4 linked regions of the Homo sapiens genome follow. The protein of the gene in region 3 purifies or fractionates together with the protein of the main gene of each other region. This does not show direct contact. Each region holds a gene or a part of one and is shown on either strand. Other genes may lie near its edges.

Evidence for each region. Proteins that work in one complex are often made in the same cells at the same time.
Region 1: the proteins of ABCF2 (region 3) and MTHFD1 fractionate together in Homo sapiens (co-fractionation; one large-scale study listed by BioGRID). This does not show direct contact.
Region 2: the proteins of ABCF2 (region 3) and EIF5B fractionate together in Homo sapiens (co-fractionation; one large-scale study listed by BioGRID). This does not show direct contact.
Region 4: the proteins of ABCF2 (region 3) and SLC2A12 purify together in Homo sapiens (affinity purification with mass spectrometry, with the first as the bait; one large-scale study listed by BioGRID). This does not show direct contact.

What each region holds. Positions count from the first base shown.
Region 1 is NC_000014.9:64,418,606-64,423,569, reverse strand, and holds part of MTHFD1 (C-1-tetrahydrofolate synthase, cytoplasmic), read right to left. Parts: intron 3,757-4,964; coding exon 3,645-3,756; intron 1-3,644. UniProt on the Homo sapiens protein: Trifunctional enzyme that catalyzes the interconversion of three forms of one-carbon-substituted tetrahydrofolate: (6R)-5,10-methylene-5,6,7,8-tetrahydrofolate, 5,10-methenyltetrahydrofolate and (6S)-10-formyltetrahydrofolate.
Region 2 is NC_000002.12:99,388,642-99,393,605, reverse strand, and holds part of EIF5B (eukaryotic translation initiation factor 5B), read right to left. Parts: intron 3,889-4,964; coding exon 3,757-3,888; intron 3,388-3,756; coding exon 3,205-3,387; intron 3,063-3,204; coding exon 2,901-3,062; intron 640-2,900; coding exon 508-639; intron 1-507. UniProt on the Homo sapiens protein: Plays a role in translation initiation.
Region 3 is NC_000007.14:151,219,940-151,224,903, forward strand, and holds part of ABCF2 (ATP-binding cassette sub-family F member 2), read right to left. Parts: coding exon 4,837-4,964; intron 4,176-4,836; coding exon 3,993-4,175; intron 3,911-3,992; coding exon 3,739-3,910; intron 2,678-3,738; coding exon 2,582-2,677; intron 1,742-2,581; coding exon 1,639-1,741; intron 1-1,638. Other genes in the region: ABCF2-H2BK1 (ABCF2-H2B protein), read right to left, coding at 1,639-1,741, 2,582-2,677, 3,739-3,910, 3,993-4,175, 4,837-4,964.
Region 4 is NC_000006.12:134,027,908-134,032,871, reverse strand, and holds part of SLC2A12 (solute carrier family 2, facilitated glucose transporter member 12), read left to right. Parts: intron 1-3,150; coding exon 3,151-4,491; intron 4,492-4,964. UniProt on the Homo sapiens protein: Insulin-independent facilitative glucose transporter.

The DNA of each region.
Region 1 (4,964 bases), on a different chromosome or scaffold from region 3:
ATTAAAAAATCAGCTGGGCTTGGTAGCGGGCACCTGTAATCCCAGCTGCTCAGAGGCTGAGGCAGGAGACTCACTTGAACCCGGGAGGCGGAGGCTGCAGTGAGCATTCCACTCCAGCCTGGGCAACAAGAGCGAAACTCCGTCTCAAAAAAAAAAGTTAGTTCTGCAGCTCCTGTGGGCTCCATATTAATCTGAAGTCCAAAATGCAAAGAAGGCTTAACACTACCTATCACAAATTTGCTGAGGGCAAAATGAGAAAATGTGTACATTACTGAAATTGAAAAAGCAGCCTCCAAACGCAAGAGTTTCTCTTTCCACCACAGATACGTAAGATATTTTTTATATGGAGTAAAAGGAGCTGGTCAACACAACTCATTGGGATGGTTTCAAGTTTCTAGAAGATTATAAAGCAGCAAACTGGCAGAACATTTCCTCTTACAGCCCCTAGAGTCATTTCAAAATGCCAAGGAAATATAGATAGAGGTTTGCCCTCTGTACAAGTTTCAATCGTCTTCACACTGTAGTTAGCTTGAAATACCCGCTGCATCTATTTCTACGTGTTAATGTTAGTCATTTTCGTTTTCCCACAGGTAAGAGACACATATCTTTGACTACATGACTAAACGCAGCACTGGTGAGTTCAGTTTTGCTCCTAAACCAAATACTGTCAGGGTTGACGAGACACTGCTAAACATGCAGTGCTTCGTGGATAGGATGATGTGGTCAGTGGAAAAAGTGACCACTACTCAGCCTAAGCATATGACCTCAGTAATGAGCAAACCTTTTGGTTATCTACCCCCAGCCCTAGAATTTCTCTTTCTTTGGGAAATCACATGTACAAAAATCAACTAAAGATCCAGCTGAGCCCTGACTCTTCTACATTTAATTTGGGGACCCTAATAATAGAGGCCAGTCCAGAAGCAGCTACACTGGATAGGTTGAGACTGGATTGCATTAGGGTGGGGAATCTGTTCCCACTTTTTAACCCTTCCAAATAAAACACTATTGATCTGGCCCTTCTCAATTTATCTTTAGTAAGCCAAGCAGGAAGAGCACTTTTATGTGTTTCTCTGGCCAATACTTTCTGCCCTGCACTTGAATCTTTAAAAATATTACTTCTTTGTAAAAGGTATACACACCTTGATTCATTCTTAATTTGGCAAGTGACTTACAATGTTATCCCTGAGTGGACCATGCAAACTATTTAAATAATCAAAATATGAACCAAGAAGTAGCTCGGTGGTAGAAAAGTTTGCTTCTAAAGTGAACATTTGCAAATATCAGTCTTTAGGTCCTGCAGCCCATTTGCTGGTCTGTAACTGAGTGATTCTGCCATCCTTTGGGGAACACAATAACATCCAGCTGTATCAGCATTAATTTGCCTATATGCCCAAGATCAGTAAAAACACTGTTGACCAGAAGGGAAGATACTGCTTTGATTTTATTCATATTTTATTGTCTACATAAGGAATCAATGTGAAAAGGATGGCAAGTTTCATGTTTAAGTCAACATTTCCTACCTATCTGCAACACTCAAGATCCCCACTCAGGTTTTTCTTCTCCATTTCTCACATGTAATCCAAAAAAAAAATGCCAAAAGCAGAAATATGATACAGAAGATGCGAGGTTTTAAAAAGACTGAGCTTGCTGGGTGCGGTGGCTCACGCCTGTAATCCCAGCACTTTGGGAGGCAAAGGTGGGCGGATCACGAGGTCAGGAGATCGAGACCATCCTGGCTAACATGGTGAAACCCCGTCTCTACTAAAAATACAAAAAAAATTAGCCGGGCGTGGTGGCGGGCGCCTGTAGTCCCAGCTACTCGGGAGGCGGAGGCGGGAGAATGGCATGAACCCGCAAGGCGGAGCTTGCAGTGAGCCGAGATCGCGCCACAGCACTCCAGCCTGGGCAACAGAGCGAGACTCCGTCTCAAGAAAAAAAAAAAAAATTAAAAAAATAAATAAATAAAAAGACTGAGCTTGAATGTCATATCGCAAGTATTCAAAGTGAGGAGTTGTAGGAGAGCAATTTCTTTATCGCCTGTTAGATAATTACACTACAAGAAAATGAGTGATCAATTATGAGCTACTGTCTTAAAAGCACGGTAGGGAGAGTGGGAGGGAGGTTAAAAACGGTGAAGGCTTGACAGTGACTAATGTTCCTGGCAGCTCAGCGTCTACATCTGAAACTTGAGATGGGAAGGGAGAAAAAAGACTTCCAGCTATAACTCCCTTCGACAATTCAATAGATATGAGTGCCAGTGGTCAGATGGCAGGAAGCTGGATGTGGCGCCACAGTGACCACTGCCCTTGAGGAGCTATCTAGGCAGGAGAGCACAGGACGCCGTACATGAGACACATGCAACAAAAGATACAATACACATGTTCTATGGGAGAGGAGGGAGGGAGAGAAGGAAAGATCATCCCTTGATAAGGGGAAATCAAACAAGGTTTGGAAGGAATAACAGACATGACAGAGAGGAGATGGGGAGGAAGCAGCTGAAGGTGAAGGTGAAGTTGAACCTTATTCAGTTGTGTAGCCCAAGGCCTGGCATTGTGCTGGATACACAGTAGTTGCTCCGTTAAAGATTGTTCCTTTCTTGGATCTATGAGGACGTACGCAAGTTTTGCCCTATTGTTCTGTGAAGTTTTCTGTTTGAAAGAGTAGCCCACTCCACTAAGAATGCAGGTGAGGGAACTACAAAGGGCAAACGAGGCATGCGCAGGGAAGGGAAAGTGGTCCACTTTACAAGTTGAAGACAGGTATTCACCATGCGCAAGTGAGATCACAGGCTGCAGAGGTCACTGAAATTAGTGTGAGGCTAAGGAGTCTGGCAAGTAAGAAGGAAGAGGCTCAGAGTTCCATGCCAGAAGGTGAACGTGGCAAGGCGAGAGCACGGGGATAGATCTGAGTGGGAAGCAGCTGGAGGGAGGGACACCTGCAAGGAAGTTATCACAGCCCATCAGCTGAGAAGGTAACACTCAGTGGTGACACTCAGAACAGAGGAGAGAGAAAACAATTCCTAATATTTAGAGACTGGTCCAATATAGGGAATGCTTGGGAGGGAAACTAAAAGGCTTCAGACTTGCGGGAAGGAAGAATGGTGATACTAACCAAAAGACGGGAGTAAGGGGTAACTTGGGGATGAGGATGCCGAGTACAGTTTTGGACATGATTAAAAGGCTAGATTTATCCTCTCAGCCTAGAAAAAAACCCAGGTCAAATATCTTCTTTGTAAAGCCCTCCTCTTGGCAGAATGAGTCCCTCTTCTGGACTCTCATAGCACTTTGCAATAATTATACTGTATTTTAAATCCATCCATCAACTTTGCTAAAATAAAGGGTGATCTCTACATGAAGATAAAGTGATATATCCCTCCTGCCCTCCCTCTCACTTTCTCCCTGGACAAAGTCATCTTGGAAGCTGTACAGCACATGATGAAAATCAAAGGCTCTGGCACCAGGCAGACCTGCCTGCAAGTGGCAACTCTTCTATCTACTAACTCTGTGCACCCTTGGGCTAGTCAGTCTCCTAAACCTTAGTACTACAAGCATAAAATGAGACAAGCTTCTCTCTCAGGCTTCTTTTGATGACCTAGATACCATCCTCAATACCAGCAGCCACCTTACTCCTCCAACAACACTCACCTGGGACATAATTGATTCCACAGTCGATGACTATTGCCCCAGGTTTGATCCACTCCCCTTTAACCATTTCAGGCTGACCAGTTGCAACCACCAGGATGTCACCTTTATTTACCTAGGGGTAGGGGATTTGGACATCAGAAATGAAATAATGAAATACACACCAAAAAAAAACCCAGAAATGAAAAGGATATCCCTGAGCTTTGTATTAAATTCTTAAGTGTCATAAGCTATTTCATAAGATATTGGGTTAAGGCCTCAAATGTAAGCCACACACTGTTTCTGACAGCCCTTCACATGCCGTGCTCATTTCTACACATGCCAAAGAGCTCCCTTTCACCAGCCATTTTACCCAATAGGGAAATCAGTGTCAACCTGCAAGGCAGAGGGGCAAACAGGCTTGGGGCCCTGCGTGTTATGTCCAGACACTGCTCCTTCTCCTACAGAATGTAGAGCACTACTTTGGGAGGATTAAAAGAGAAAGTACTAGGCCTCTCTCCTGCTCTCTCCCCACATTTAAGAGACTGCACTGTCAACAGGCACGTGTGTGTGTGTGCGCATTCTTGGGCTCAGGAATCTGATGCAGGGATCTAGAACAAGCTGCCATAGCTATTAGCAGACTACTGCCCACGACTGCCTCTGGAGCACCTTCACTCTGAGGCCACCACTTTTACACACATGGGATCTGGCTGCCAGAGGTCAATCTGAGTGCCTGTACTGCTAATCCCTGTCCACCACGAGGCAGATTAGGGTAGAAAGTACTTGGTGAGAGGCCAGGCATGTTGGGTCACGCCTGTAATCTCAGCACTTTAGGAAGGTGAACCAGGAGGATCGCTTGAGTCCAGGAGTTTGAGTCCAGCCTGGGCAACACAGTGAGACCCCTGTCGCTACAAAAAGCTTAAAAATTAGCCAGGCATGGTGGCACATGCCTGTAGTCCCAGCTACTCAGAAGGTTGATGCAGGAGGATCACTCGAGCCCAGGAGTTCAAAGCTGCAGTGGGCTCTCATGGACTGCCACTGCACTCTAGCCTAAATAACAGAGCAAGACCCTGTCTCAAAAGAAAAAAGACAAAGGTCGGGCATGGTGGCTCATGCCTGTAATCCCAGTACTTTGGGAGGCCAAGGCAGGTGGATCACCTGAGGTCAGGAGTTCAAGACCGGCCTGACCAACATGGAGAAACCTTGTCTCTACTAAAAATACAAAATTAGCCAGGCGTGGTGGCACATGCCTGTAATCCCAGCTACTCAGGAGGCTGAGGCAGGAGAATCACTTGAACCCAGGAGGCAGAGGTTGTGGTGAGCTGAGATTGCGCCATTGCACTC
Region 2 (4,964 bases), on a different chromosome or scaffold from region 3:
TTCTCTTTGGCAAATGAACAAACTATGGCTCAAAGTCCACTTTTATGAAACTACAATGGACATGGGCCAAAAAGAATATACAATTTCTAGCTTTTTTTTTTTTAGACAGGGTCCTGCTGTCACCCAGGTTGGAGTGCAGTGGCACGATCTTGGCTCACTGCAGCCTCTGCCTCCCAGGTTCAAGTGATTCTCCTGCCTCAGCCTCCCAAGTAGCTGGGACTACAGGTGTGCATTCACCATGCCCAGCCGACTTCTAGCTTTTGACTCATTTTTTTATTTGAATAAAATGCATTATTTTTATAATTCTAGTACATATAAAAATTATACCAATTTCTATGATTGTACAAACTGAAGTAATTCAAAAGCATCAAGTTTGCTAAGAGGCCAAGAAATGGCAGGCTTCACAAAGACAAAGCCAGTTTTGGTCACCATCCCTAGCATGTGCAATGCTGACACATGCCAGAACTCAAATAGCTTTTAAGGAAAAAAATTTTTAAATGAACTTACTTTAAGAACAGGGATTTCATCTTCTTTATAAGCCACAAGGAGGGGTAAACCAGCCAATGTTTTCTCCAGGTCTTTTCCAAGAATCTTTACCCCCTGAGCTGCTTCTACTTCTTTATGCTTTTCATACTGGTTCTACAGAGATAAAAACATTTGTTACCAAATGTACTTTAAAAGTGGTTAGCAGTAGAAGATGATATAAGAGAATCTCATCATGATATTAGAGAGAGGTTTCTTAAACGAGGCACAAAAAGCAATAATCACAAGACTGATAAATTTAACATTAAAATTAAATATTTCCATTTCTCAAAATACCACAGGAAAAAAAAAGTCACAAGAGTAGAAGATATTGCAAAACACACCAACTAACAAACCGGTATCCTGAATATATAAGCGCATATAAATCTGTAAGAAAGATAATGCAGAAGAAAAATGTACATCTCACGAAGGAGGAAATAAATGGCCAATAAACATTTTTAAATGACCAACCAGGTTAACAATTAGGCAAATGCACACTGAAACGGCAATGAGCTACACACTTAGCAGAATGGCAAAAAAAATTTAAAACCTAACATCCAAGAACTGATGAAGCTGTAAAACAATGAAACTAAAATACTGCAGTTGAGAATATAATTTGTTACACCCACTGTAGACAAGTGTGGCCTTCACTCCTAGGTATACATACCCTGGGAAACTGGCACAAACACATCAAGAGATGTTCACAGCAGCAGCATTATTAGTAACAACAAAAATCAAAAACTGGGCCGGGTGCGGTGGCTCACTTAGGGAGGCTGAGGTCAGGAGTTCGAGACTAGCCTGGCCAACACGGCAAAACCCCACCTCTACTAAAAATACAAAAATTAGCCGGGTGTGGTGGCGTGCACCTGTAATCCCAGCCTGGATGACAGACTGAGACTCCATCTCAAAATAAAATAAAATAAAATAAACATAAAAAACTGGAGATCACCTACATTTCCCATCAACAGAACAGATAGATATGTTGTGATATAGTCACACAATGGAATAGAAATCTTAAAATTATATACTTTTTTTTTTTCACTAAAGGAAGCCAGATATAGGCCAGGCATGGTGGCTCATGCCTATAATCCCAGCACTTTGGGGAGATCAAGGTGGGTGGATTGCTTGAGCCCAGGAGGTCAAGACCAGCCTGGGCAACATGACAAAGTCCCATCTGTAAACAAATTAGCCAGGTGTGGTGGTGCGTACCTATAGTCCCAACTATTCAGGAGGCTGAGGTGGGAGGATCACCTGAACCCCGGGGAGGTTGAGGCTGCAGTGAACTGTGACTGCACCACTGCACTCCAGCCTGGGTGACAGTGAGAGCCTATCACCAAAAAAAAAAAAAAAAAAAGAGCCAGCTATAAAAGTACACACTGAGAATAACTCCATTTCTACATAAAGTCTACAGACACTTCTAAGGGAAGTACTCTTAGACACAAAAACAAAGCAAAGCAAGGATATTTGTTACTGTCATAAAATGCAACCATGGTTAACTCTATGAAAGGTCAGGGGGTAGGAGGGGAAGGCAGGGGAGTTGATCAGGAAGAAGCACACAGGAAGCTTCTGGGTGCCAGCAGCGTTCTGATTCTCCATCTGGTTGCTTCCCAAAAATGTGTTAAACTTTTCTTCTATGTTGTGTGTACTTTTCAGGAGCAATGTTTTATTTCACAATTAAAAATGTTAAAAAACTACAGCTGACCCTTGAACAAAATGGGCTTGAACTGCATATGTCCACTTATACTCAGATTTTCTTCTGCCTCTGCCACCAAACACAGCAAGGCCTACCCCTCTCCTTCTTCCCTCTCAGCTTACTCAACATGAAGATGAGAATGAGGACCATTATGATGATCCACTTCCACTTAACAAATAGTAAATCTATTTTCCTTATGATTTTCTTAATCACGTTTTCTTTTCTCTAGCTTGTTTTACTGTAAGAATGCAGTATGTAATATATAAAACATACAAAACATGTTAGTCGACTGTGTATGTGATTGGTAAGGCTTCTGGTCAATGGTAGGCTATTAGGAGTTAAGTTTTTGGGGAGTCAAAAAATATATGTGGATTTTCAACTGGCCAGGGAGTCAGTGCCCCTAGCCCTCATGTTGTTCAAGAGTCAACCGTATTTAGCAGTGTAGAACCATAACAGTGTAGTTTAGAATCTGGCAAAGGCCCAGTCTGGTAAGCAGGTACTTTCACACATCTCTACTCTGACAGACAGGCCTTCCTGTATGATGACAACTAAAATAAAAGGGAGAGCGAGGGATGTATGTGTTCTGTATTAAGTCAAACAGCTTTCAAAGTGAGGAAACCATCTCAGCAGAACTTCTAAACACTGTACAAGTCCCCACGTGTCAATGCTTCCCACCTCAGCATACCTTCACTCGTAATTCCTTCATAGGAGGAGGTAACAGGAGGCCTCGAATCTGAGTTACAATGGGCCCTTCTACTCCAGGAACAATGATTGTATCTCCTTCCTTCAAACGCCCATTGATCAAGATGACATCTATAGTGGTGCCCATCCCCGGGAGAGCTTTAACCTAAAAGGCATTAATGCAAAGAGAAAGACATACATACAATGCACCATGTTCATTAAATCTAAAAGTAGTAAATATCCTCCACTCAAGGAACTTGCTATTTTTAAAAAAAAAAAAAACAATAAACTGAAAAGTTGATCATTACCTCCATCACCTGTGCTCTCAGCTCTTCACAGTGTGCAAGTCTCTTGCTCAACATGGTCTGAGTTAACTCTACAAGAAGGTAGATCAGACTTCCCATGCCATCACCAGTATGTGCAGAGGTAGGTACCAAAGACACAAAAGTGCGGGGATCTTTATTCTCATAAAACAAAGCAGCATTCAAACCCTAGGAGCAAAAATCATCCAAAATGCCAGGCTGTAAAGAAAACGTATCTGGAATAGGTGTGCCTCACTAGAAGCCGGATGAGCAAATGGCTCATCATTTTGAAACTCCTCATAAACACTAAAAATGATCATGTATATCCTATAAGCATTAACTGTATTATAGCAAAGTAGTTCTAAGTCAACTCAGTTTTCTAAATTAAAGTATTCAGACTGCAAAGAAAAAGGAGAAAAGGGAAGAAGAATTTAAAAAAAGTAATTGCTGTCAACAGAGGAAAAGAACCAGTATTAATGAAAATGCTGACTTCATTATAAAGATAATATAATACATATTCTGAGATAGGCTCTTCAGAAAGAAGGAAGGCCTTCTTACCTGCTGTGCAAATTCTACAATAATAGCCTTTGCTCGCTCCTCAAATTCATCTTTTGTATTCTTTTTCTGCTTCTTTAAAGTAGCAGCCACATCAGAGTCAGGACTCTTTTTCCAATCATATAACCTATCAATCTGAAAAAGTTTTTTCATGAGAAAGATCTCTAAAAAATTCAGAACATTCAAGAACTGTATTAATAGCTCCAGAAAATTCCTCATGTGTGTCTCATATATACAGAACAGTGTGACTTACTCATACACTTTATTGTACCAAAAGCTCCTTTCAGACTGCTTATCGGCACCTGCTCTTAAATTAGAAACTGCTGTGGTGCCATGCTGCCCCTGTCAGCCTCCATGAGTTCCTAAGTGGCTGCCATTTGTTTGCAAAAGATAACATCCTAGAATTATCCTAAGACTATTAATGTATATTGTTGGAATTCCGAAACAGTTTTTGTAACAAATCAATCAATCCCAGCAAGTACCATCACTATAAAATTATATACCAAAAAATTAAAAAATATATATTTTCTAAGGGAACAGCCTATTTTAATTATTTTATTGCTCAAATTAGGATTAAATCTGTTTTGTTAATGACAGAATCTATTTTCCCTCACTTTTCAACATGAGAGATAAATGAGCATAGAAGAAATGAAAAATACTTGCTAGCCAAACAAACAATCAAAAGCATAATCTGTCTGGGGACAGAGTCTAGGGTGACAAAATAAAGAATCAGACGAATCTGAATGCTACTAAGGAGACAAATCAGTAGGAAATGACGAAGATGTTAAAATTAGCATATGAGGTCCTTAGAATATTTATAAACATGCTCAACACCTTTAAAGGAAAAGCCTGAAGCTTGTAAAGCTAAATAATAAAAACATGTCTAACTAGTAATTAGAAATTAACACTTTTAAATGCTTATATTAGAAAAGAATATCAATAAAACCAAAAGCTAATTCTTTGAAATAATCCAATTCCTGCACATTCTTTCAGAAAACAGAGGAGGAAACACTTCTCAACTCGTCTTAGGAGGCCAACATTACTCTGATATGAAAACCAGATAAAAGACATTACAAGAAAACTACATACTCATATCACTCATGAACATAGACACAAAACAACAATGAAACATTACAAATCAAATCTAGCAATATATCAAAAGGATAACAAATGACAACCAACTAGGGTTTATTTTAATAATGTAAAGTTGG
Region 3 (4,964 bases):
AATATAAAAATTAGCTGGGTATGGTGGCATGTGCCTGTGGTCTCAGCTACTTGGGAGGGTGAGGTGGGAGGATCGCTTGAACCTGGGAGGCAGAAGTTGCAGTGAGCCAATATCACGCCACTGGACTCCAGCCTGGGTGACAGAGACAGACCCCATCTCGAGAAAAAAGAGGCCGGGTGCGGTGGCTCACGCCTGTAATCCCAGCACTTTGGGAGGCCGAGGCAGGCGGATCATGAGGTCAAGAGAGGGAGACCATCCTGGCCAATATGGTGAACCCCATCTCTACTAAAAATACAAAAATTAGCTGGGTGTGGTGGCATGCGCCTGTAGTCCCAGCTACTCAGGAAGCCGAGGCAGGAGAGTCCCTTGAACCTGGGAGGTGGAGGTTGCAGTGAGCCCAGATCGCGCCACTGCACTCCAGCCTGGCGACGGAGCAAGACTCCAGCTCAAAAAAAAAAAAAAAAAAAAGCTGCAATTGTATAAAAAGAAAAAGATTACGTATACATGACATTTTCTACAAATGTGTGCAAGTATACATGAAGTTTCTGGAAGGCTATATTATAAACTAATACTCCTATGACTATGAATGAAGAGGACATCAATCGTTAGTTTCTTACATGCTTTTTGAAATATAAAATGAAAAGGCAAGGCACAACAGTGGGCTATTGAGATCCTGACCCCCATTCTCCTGTGGTCATGGGAGGTGGGGTAAATGTGTAGACTCCAGTGAAGCAGAATTAAGAAGGCATTCAAGAAGGCAGAGGGAGGCCTCGTGTGGTGGCTCATGCCTGTTATCCCAGCACTTTGGGAGGCTGAGGAGGGCAGATCACCTGAAGTCAAGAGTTCAAGACCAGCCTGGCCAACATGGCAAAATCCCGTCTCTACTAAAAATACAAAAACTAGCCAGACATGGCAGTGCATGCCTGTAGTCCCAGCTACTCAGAAGGCTGAGGTACAAGAATCGCTTGAATTCAGGAAGTAGAGGTTGCAGTGAGCTGAGATCATGCCAGCCTGGGTGACGGAATGAGATTCTGTTTCCAGAAAAAAAGAGGCAAGGCAGATGAGAGCAGGGCCTGCCTGGTCACCGTGAAAAGTCAACTTCTTTGCCACAAGGCAAACATACACCTTGTGTGCACAGGCTGCCAATCCATGGCCTATGGCCTGAAAGCAATGACTTTGGGATTAAAATAAAACAGGTGGTAGGACTCCTTGTCCATATCTTTTTATAGCAATAGGTAGAAAGGAGCTAATAGATAGGTCTGCTTTTTTTTTTTTTTTGAGATGGAGTCTTGCTCTGTCACCCAGGCTGGAGTGCAGTGGTGTGATCTCAGCTCACTGCAACCTCCGCCTCCAGGGTTCAAGTGATTCTCCTGCCTCAGCTTCCCAAGTAGCTGGGACTACAGGCACCTGCCACCACGCCTGGCTAATTTTTTTGTATTTTTAGTAGAGACAGGGTTTCACCATATTGGCCAGGCTGGTCTCAAACTCCTGACCTCAAGTGACCCACCCACCTCGGCCTCCCAAAGTGCTGGGATTACAGGCATGAGCCACCACACCAGCCTTTTTTTTTTTTTTTAAAGAGAATTTCAGAGAATTGGTATGCACAGAGATTACCAGAAGAAGCCGAGGCCCACTCACCGTATAATACTTCAGTTTCTTGTTGTGCATGTGAATGATATTGGTACAGACACCATTCAGAAAATCCTGGGAATGGGAGACGAGGACCAAGATGCGCTTAAAACTGTAAAGCCAAAGAACCAATTAGTGAAGAGCTCAACCATGGGAGCTAGCTGACAACAGGTGAACTGAAAGTCAGGCCCATCCTCATCCCTAAGCACCTTTTAGATGTGTTGTCCAATTCCTGGCTGTTAGCAAGCACCTAAGCCACGACTCGACAATCTAACTGTAAGGGTATTTGGACGCCTTTCAGTGTGGCGAGACAGCCTGAGTTTCCTCAATCTTCTGTTCTAATTTTCAACAGAATGGGATGGAGACGGTAGTAACAGTGATAGTAACCAGAAGTGTGTATGTACACAAATACACCCACGAATGTATCCAAAACTGTGGGTGGGAAGAACTGGTACAGACACAATAAAAAACAAAATGCTTTACTTTTTGAAAGAAGGTACTAAGTCATCGTACCACTAAAAGCCTTCTTTTAAAATTGGTACAATATTCCAGCTTATTCAGTTCTTTAGCTGTAGGACCATGACCATATTGGCTATATTTTCCTTTGTCACTGCATCATGATCTTAGATGGAAGACCTCTTTTTAGCTTTATACAATTAAGAAAAAAAATATATCTTTAATTAAGATCTTGAATTTGAAATATGGACAAAACCAACAAGGATTTTTTTTAAAAAAAAAAGCTCATAAATTTCAAACTAAAGAAAAACAATCAAAATAAAAGGCCAGCCTTCAACAGCCCTAAAGGTGCTCACTGCTTGTCCAAGAAAGTGAACTCTGTCCTTCCTTCAGTTCCTTTCTCACCGCTCTAACATCAGTGCAGTTTCTGGGCATCCATTTTCTAGATTCCCCCTTTGGGACCTGCCCGCTCACATCCCCCATTCCACCCTCTTACGTTTTTAGTTCTTCTTCCAACCACACGCAAGCATCTAGGTCCAGGTGGTTGGTAGGCTCATCCAGGAGCAGCATGAAGGGCCGAATAAAGAGGGCTCTGAAGGACGGTAAAGGAGACAGAAGCACCTCAGAATTATAATGGATGTGACACAGGACGGGACAAACTTGCCTGCTACATGCAATTCTGAGTAGGCTCCTGGCTTGAGTCTTGAAATCAATTTTAGGCTCTATACCTCAGAGGGAAAAGGAGAAGCAGGACAGAAACAAGAGTCGAAGAGAAGAGATTGAAGAGTAGAATACGGGGCTCAGAAGCATATAAGGACAGTTCGAGGCAAGGCTGTAGAAGTCTTTATGAGTTTATGAGCCTTGTGCACTGAAGTTGGAGACTACGGAGAAGACAAAAAAATACAGAGGAAATAAACTGCTAAAACAAATTAGACCTATCTGAAGGTCTGAAGATAGACCTATCTTGTGGGGTGGCCAGAGTCTAGCGAGGGATAGACTCTAAAGCTCTGGTTCCCAAACCAGAAATCTGTGTTTTTAAAAGCTCCTTGGGTGAACCGGAGGCAGCTAATCCTTGCTAGCATGTGGAACCACTGTGCTTATACTCTAAGGCACATGCAGGCAACTTTCTAGAGAAGTATATCAAGTCTTATAAATTCCCTTCACAGAGAATGATGGGGCAAGGAATTACCTGTTTAGTGACTCTGGGGGGATTATTGGGGGAATGCTGGTCTATGGAAACTCACTTTGAGTCCAGGCCACAAGAGAATAAGAACGACAGCTATCATAATAGCCGTCTAACATTTTATCTTTACAGCTGGAATTAGCAGGACTAGAGTACAAAAAGGGTGGAAAGGGAATCCTGGTGGGAGGACAGAAACAGACCTACTCCACCGTTTTACCTAGGACTACCCCTAGGATCTCTAAACTCTGTGCTGGGTGCTAAGAATCCAATAGAAAACTGAGTCACTCTACCACTTCAGCCAGGAAGCTCTCTCTCTAGCCCATACACAACAACCCCCTCCACACTGCAGATGTCCATGTCTCATTTGACACTTACCACTGACTCCTGTTCCAAACAGTTCCACTGGAGTGAACACTAAACACTGGAGAGATGGGGGAGTTATGGGGGTAGGGAAGGAGGGAGGGACTCACCTGGCAAGGGCAACCCTCATCCTCCAGCCCCCACTGAAGTCTTTTAGCTTCTTGCGCTGCATGGCAGGTGTGAAACCCAGTCCATGCAAGATCCGCGAGGCCCTCATCTCTGCCTTGTCGGCATCCAGCTCCTCCAGGCGCTCGTAGAGCTCCATGAGCTTCTCACACTCCGCTGTGGACAGTGTATGGCCATGAGGCTCCTGGGGGCCTTTCTGGGAGGACGCCCACCCCTATGCCCAGGTCTGGAGCCCTACCATCCTCATGAGCCAGCCGCTCTGCCTCTTTCTCCAGCATGGCCCGCTCTGTGTCGACTTCCATCACACAATGCAAGGGTGTCTTGTCACTAGGGGGCATCTCTCGAGTCAGATGGTAGATGTCGATGTGCTCAGGGATGGGCACTTCACGCTTCCCAATAGCAGAGAGCAGCATGGACTTTCCTGAGAGGGGAGAGCAGCAGACGCTTGGTACAGTGAACTCCCCTATCCCTCTTCACCACTAGTTCTTCCACCCCAGTCAAACTGGGACCTCATCCATTTTTTTTTTTTTGAGGACCTTTCTTCCCTTCATTCGTTCAAATCTTGCCAGCCCCCATTCTTGGGATTCCTTTCTAACTTTCCTCCAATTCTTGCCCCACCCCTTATCTGAAGCTTTTTTCACTTACCACAGCTTCACACGCCCCTGACCAACTTCTCCAGCACCTGCTGTAACTAATCATGTGGTACAGGGTGGACGCACCCTAATCTGAAAATCCAAAATGCTCCAAAATCCAAAACCTTTTAAGTGCTCACATGATGCTTAAAGGAAATGCTCACTGGAGAATTTCAGGTTTTTGGATTAGGGATGCTCAGCCGGTAAGTATAATGCAAATATTCCAAGATCCGAAACACTTCTGGTTCCAAGCATTTCAGATAAGGGATACTCAACCTGTACATAACACATACTGCTCTGCGTTGCTAGTTCCTTTCCCCTGGACATAATCTGGTCTCCCATCCCTATTCTAAATGCTTTGCTCTGAACACAGTTGATGCTAAATAAATGCTTGTGAGTGACAGATGAGCTAAGGAGAGATACCTCCCACCTCCCCTTCCAAGGCCTCACCAATTCCATTTAAACCAATGAGGCCATAACGACGGCCTGAGTTTAATTCCAGTTTGGTGTCACTGAGCAGCTCTTGACCATGAAAGGTAAGTGAGAGGTTGATGATGTGAACATCAGTACTGTTGGGG
Region 4 (4,964 bases), on a different chromosome or scaffold from region 3:
TGTAATATATTATATAAATATATATTTATATATAAATAATATATAATTTATATATATAGATATAAATTATATATATATAATATATATATATAGCAGTGAAACAGAACAAATGTGGTATCAGAGCCACAATCTCAGAAGCATTAAGGACTAGCCTTATACAGTGAATTAGAATTCAAAACCCCGAATGGACAGGCTGAGGATCAAACAGTAGTCCTAAGTATCAGTAGTAAAGGAAGTGGGAAAGCTAGTTTGGGGCAGTGTCCCTTAAAGCATATAATAGGGAAGATATTAAAATTCAGGCAACTGAGACCACAGCTAAATTCTGTAGCATATAACTCCATGTTGGTATATATGCTATATATATATAGCAGTGAAACAGAACAAATATATATATATATATATAAAAATATATATATATATATTTATATATATATATATATATATAAATATATATATATATATATATTTCTCCCTGTACCCAGGTAAATGCCTGCCATGTAACAGTGCCAAATATTTTGTTTTCTGATTAGCTAGATAAATTGCTGATTTAATTTCAGTTTACTGGGTTTTGTTCAAAATGCTCATAAATTTGCTTTATTTCTTGTGGATTATTGCACCTTTATTTGCTCCTCCATCTAAATATTCAGTGCTTTTTTCCCCTTATTTTTGGGGCTGCCAATTCCCATAGCCTACTAGGATCCTGGAGATGGAAAATACCTTGAGTATTTGTGGTAGAGCTTTAGATCACCTTTATTTGACCTGCTTATTTCACTAGAGCTGAATAGCATTTTTAACTATACCCTCCCCCAACCCCGAAAAGGCAGCCTTAGCTCAGCCTATGAAAACCGTGTGTGTAATCACATTTCTAACATTTGACTTACACCTCAGTTCTGATTCTTCTCCATCTCCTTTGCTGGCACTAGTCTTCTAAATATTGGCATTGCCTAGGTCCCAGTCTTGATCATGCTTTTCCTTTTCCCCTATTTTATCTTCCTAAGTGATCTCACCCATTCCTGTGGCTTTAAATACCAAATGTGTGCTGCTGGCTTCCAAATACATATGTCCAGGCTTGACCTATCTTTAAGCTCCAAATCTGTATACCCAATCCCCTACTTAACATTTTTACCTGAATGTCTTACAGATAAAATAAATAAACCATTTTACTAAGTCCAAAATGAAACTTTTGATTTTTGCCCCTCCTCTTATCACCACTCACAACCAGTTCTATTCCTAATCTTCCCTATGTTGGTATGTTGCGCTACACAGTATATAGTACAATGCCCTCTACATCTCTCAATGGGTGTTGGCCCCATATAGTACTGTATTGAGTATATCAAATATTGTAAAATCACCCACCCACCTGCTCAAGCCACAGAGCCATCCTGGGTTCTGACCCATTTTTTATCCCCCATCTCCAATTCTTGAACAAGTGTAATGTTTTTTTTGTTTGTTGTTTGTTTTTTGTTTTTTGTTTTTTTGTGAGATGGAGTCTTGCTCTGTTGCCCGGGGTGGAGTGCAGTGGCATGATCTCAGCTCACTGCAACCTCTGCCTCCTGGGTTCAAGTGATTCTCCTGCCTCAGCCTCCTGAGTAGCTGGGACTACAAGGCATGAACCATCATGCCCAGCTATTTTTGTACTTTTAATAGTGATGGGGTTTTGCCATGTTGGCCAGGCTGGTCTTGAACACCTGACCTCAGGAGATCCACCCACCTCAGCCTCCCAAAGTGCTGGGATTACAGGCGTGAGCCACCACATCCAGCCCTGAACAAGTGTAGTGGTTTTTAGCTCCAAAATAAGTCTTGAATCTGCCTACTTATCTCCAGTTCCACTCTTAACACCCAAGTCTAAGCTACCATTATCTCTTGTCCAAACCAAGGCAACAAACTCCTCCCTGCTACCAGTCTTGCCAGTCTTGCATTTTGAAGAACTAATCTCTACATAGCAGTGAAGGTGGACTTTATAAATAAGAAACCTATAGCGTCAATGCCCTCTACACCTCTCAGTGGGTGTTGGCTCCATTATACTTGGAACACAATGAAAAGTCATCACTGTGACCGACAAGGCCCTACTTGAAGTGCCCCCTCTGTACTTATCCAAATTCATTTTAAGCCCTTTCCGTCCTACCGCTCCAGGCTCACAATGTGCCCCACATGTTATATGTTGGCCATCTGACAGTTCCTAAAACATAATGAGAACTTTCCTGTCCTAAGGCCTTGGAAATTACTTTCTCCTGGGCCTGAAATACTCTTCCCTCTGTTGCTTTTTTGTTTTGTTTTATTTCTATTTTGACAAGTTGCAAACATATAACAAACATCTGTGTTCCTACCACCAAAAATTAATAGTTACTAACTTTTTGACATTTTTCCTTGGATTTGAACATTAACGAAAGAACAATATAAAGGTAAATTCTCCTTGTTCTGCCTGTGTTCCATCCCCCTTTCTCCTTACTCAGAATGAGTAAGGGATATTGCTGGTTCCTTACACTACATACATTTCTTCCTTCCTTCTGTTTAGCAAAACCTTGACTTTGTTAAGGCATTCACACACTGCCCACTCCCACCTCCACCCTCTGCCCCAACACCCTCATGTGTTCAGCAGAGGCCATTTGCAGCACGACTGTGGCCCAGGAGATAAGAGGGCAAGTTTCCTGGAGGCTGTGTTTCATTTTGACCCAGGCTATCCAGCAAGGAGGCTGTAGCACTTCTAGAGGCTCCTATCCTCTCTCTCCTGCCCTCAAAGATTTGCCTTTAGAGAACTGGAATGGGACCAAAGAGTCAGGCTCTTTGAATTTCTGATCCACTGCCAAGTCATGAACCAAATGATGTTCTTGTTTGTTCAGTCTTCATCATGTGTCATCTGCTTATCTCAACATCACTGTCTGATCTAAACCAAAAACATCAACATCATAAATAGAAGGAAACTGGACTTCCTACATGTCTCCATGCCTATCCTCCCAAAAAAGAAAGAAAAATGATTTCTCCTTCTATATCAAATCATTTTTTGGTTAGTGTATTATTTTATCATAATTGTGTGTTCGTTTAAACCCAGTGCTATGAAAGACTTCTACAAGGTTAAATCTCCGCTCAAATACAAAATGTTTAAAATCTCAACTGAGAACTGACCTCCCTGTCTCTTCTCTCTGCTTGCAGGCTGCGGCATGTTTACCTTCCTGTCATCTGTCACTGCTGCTGTCAGTGGCCTCCTGGTGGGTTATGAACTTGGGATCATCTCTGGGGCTCTTCTTCAGATCAAAACCTTATTAGCCCTGAGCTGCCATGAGCAGGAAATGGTTGTGAGCTCCCTCGTCATTGGAGCCCTCCTTGCCTCACTCACCGGAGGGGTCCTGATAGACAGATATGGAAGAAGGACAGCAATCATCTTGTCATCCTGCCTGCTTGGACTCGGAAGCTTAGTCTTGATCCTCAGTTTATCCTACACGGTTCTTATAGTGGGACGCATTGCCATAGGGGTCTCCATCTCCCTCTCTTCCATTGCCACTTGTGTTTACATCGCAGAGATTGCTCCTCAACACAGAAGAGGCCTTCTTGTGTCACTGAATGAGCTGATGATTGTCATCGGCATTCTTTCTGCCTATATTTCAAATTACGCATTTGCCAATGTTTTCCATGGCTGGAAGTACATGTTTGGTCTTGTGATTCCCTTGGGAGTTTTGCAAGCAATTGCAATGTATTTTCTTCCTCCAAGCCCTCGGTTTCTGGTGATGAAAGGACAAGAGGGAGCTGCTAGCAAGGTTCTTGGAAGGTTAAGAGCACTCTCAGATACAACTGAGGAACTCACTGTGATCAAATCCTCCCTGAAAGATGAATATCAGTACAGTTTTTGGGATCTGTTTCGTTCAAAAGACAACATGCGGACCCGAATAATGATAGGACTAACACTAGTATTTTTTGTACAAATCACTGGCCAACCAAACATATTGTTCTATGCATCAACTGTTTTGAAGTCAGTTGGATTTCAAAGCAATGAGGCAGCTAGCCTCGCCTCCACTGGGGTTGGAGTCGTCAAGGTCATTAGCACCATCCCTGCCACTCTTCTTGTAGACCATGTCGGCAGCAAAACATTCCTCTGCATTGGCTCCTCTGTGATGGCAGCTTCGTTGGTGACCATGGGCATCGTAAATCTCAACATCCACATGAACTTCACCCATATCTGCAGAAGCCACAATTCTATCAACCAGTCCTTGGATGAGTCTGTGATTTATGGACCAGGAAACCTGTCAACCAACAACAATACTCTCAGAGACCACTTCAAAGGGATTTCTTCCCATAGCAGAAGCTCACTCATGCCCCTGAGAAATGATGTGGATAAGAGAGGGGAGACGACCTCAGCATCCTTGCTAAATGCTGGATTAAGCCACACTGAATACCAGATAGTCACAGACCCTGGGGACGTCCCAGCTTTTTTGAAATGGCTGTCCTTAGCCAGCTTGCTTGTTTATGTTGCTGCTTTTTCAATTGGTCTAGGACCAAGTAAGTACTTTATTCTTTAATGTATTGCTTTTGACCAGTCAGAGCATCCTACTGCTATAGTACCTCATGAACATAAGTGCTAGAAGGAAGACAAGGATAACATTGGTCATCTGATGTTCCTTCTAATGCAGAAAGTATGCTTGGCTTATATCTGCTTCTGAAAAGTACAGGGCTAGTATTCAACTGAAAGATAAGTTTCCCATTATCTGTCACATGAGGATACTTTAATTCCCATTAATTGAGGATGAACCAGACCTGGAAAGATATTTATTGCCCAAGGGAATTACATTGCTTTATGAAAGCAAAATTTGCTTTCATAAAATGGGTAACATTTTCCTCTATATCATCTCTGAGTTTCTTCCTATGTAGAAGGAAAAAAATCAAGGGTTTAGATTTTCTTAAAGACACAATAGTGGATGCATTCCAGTGATAGTAAAGAAGGAAGACATTATGAGCTGAGAAGGAGGATGTAT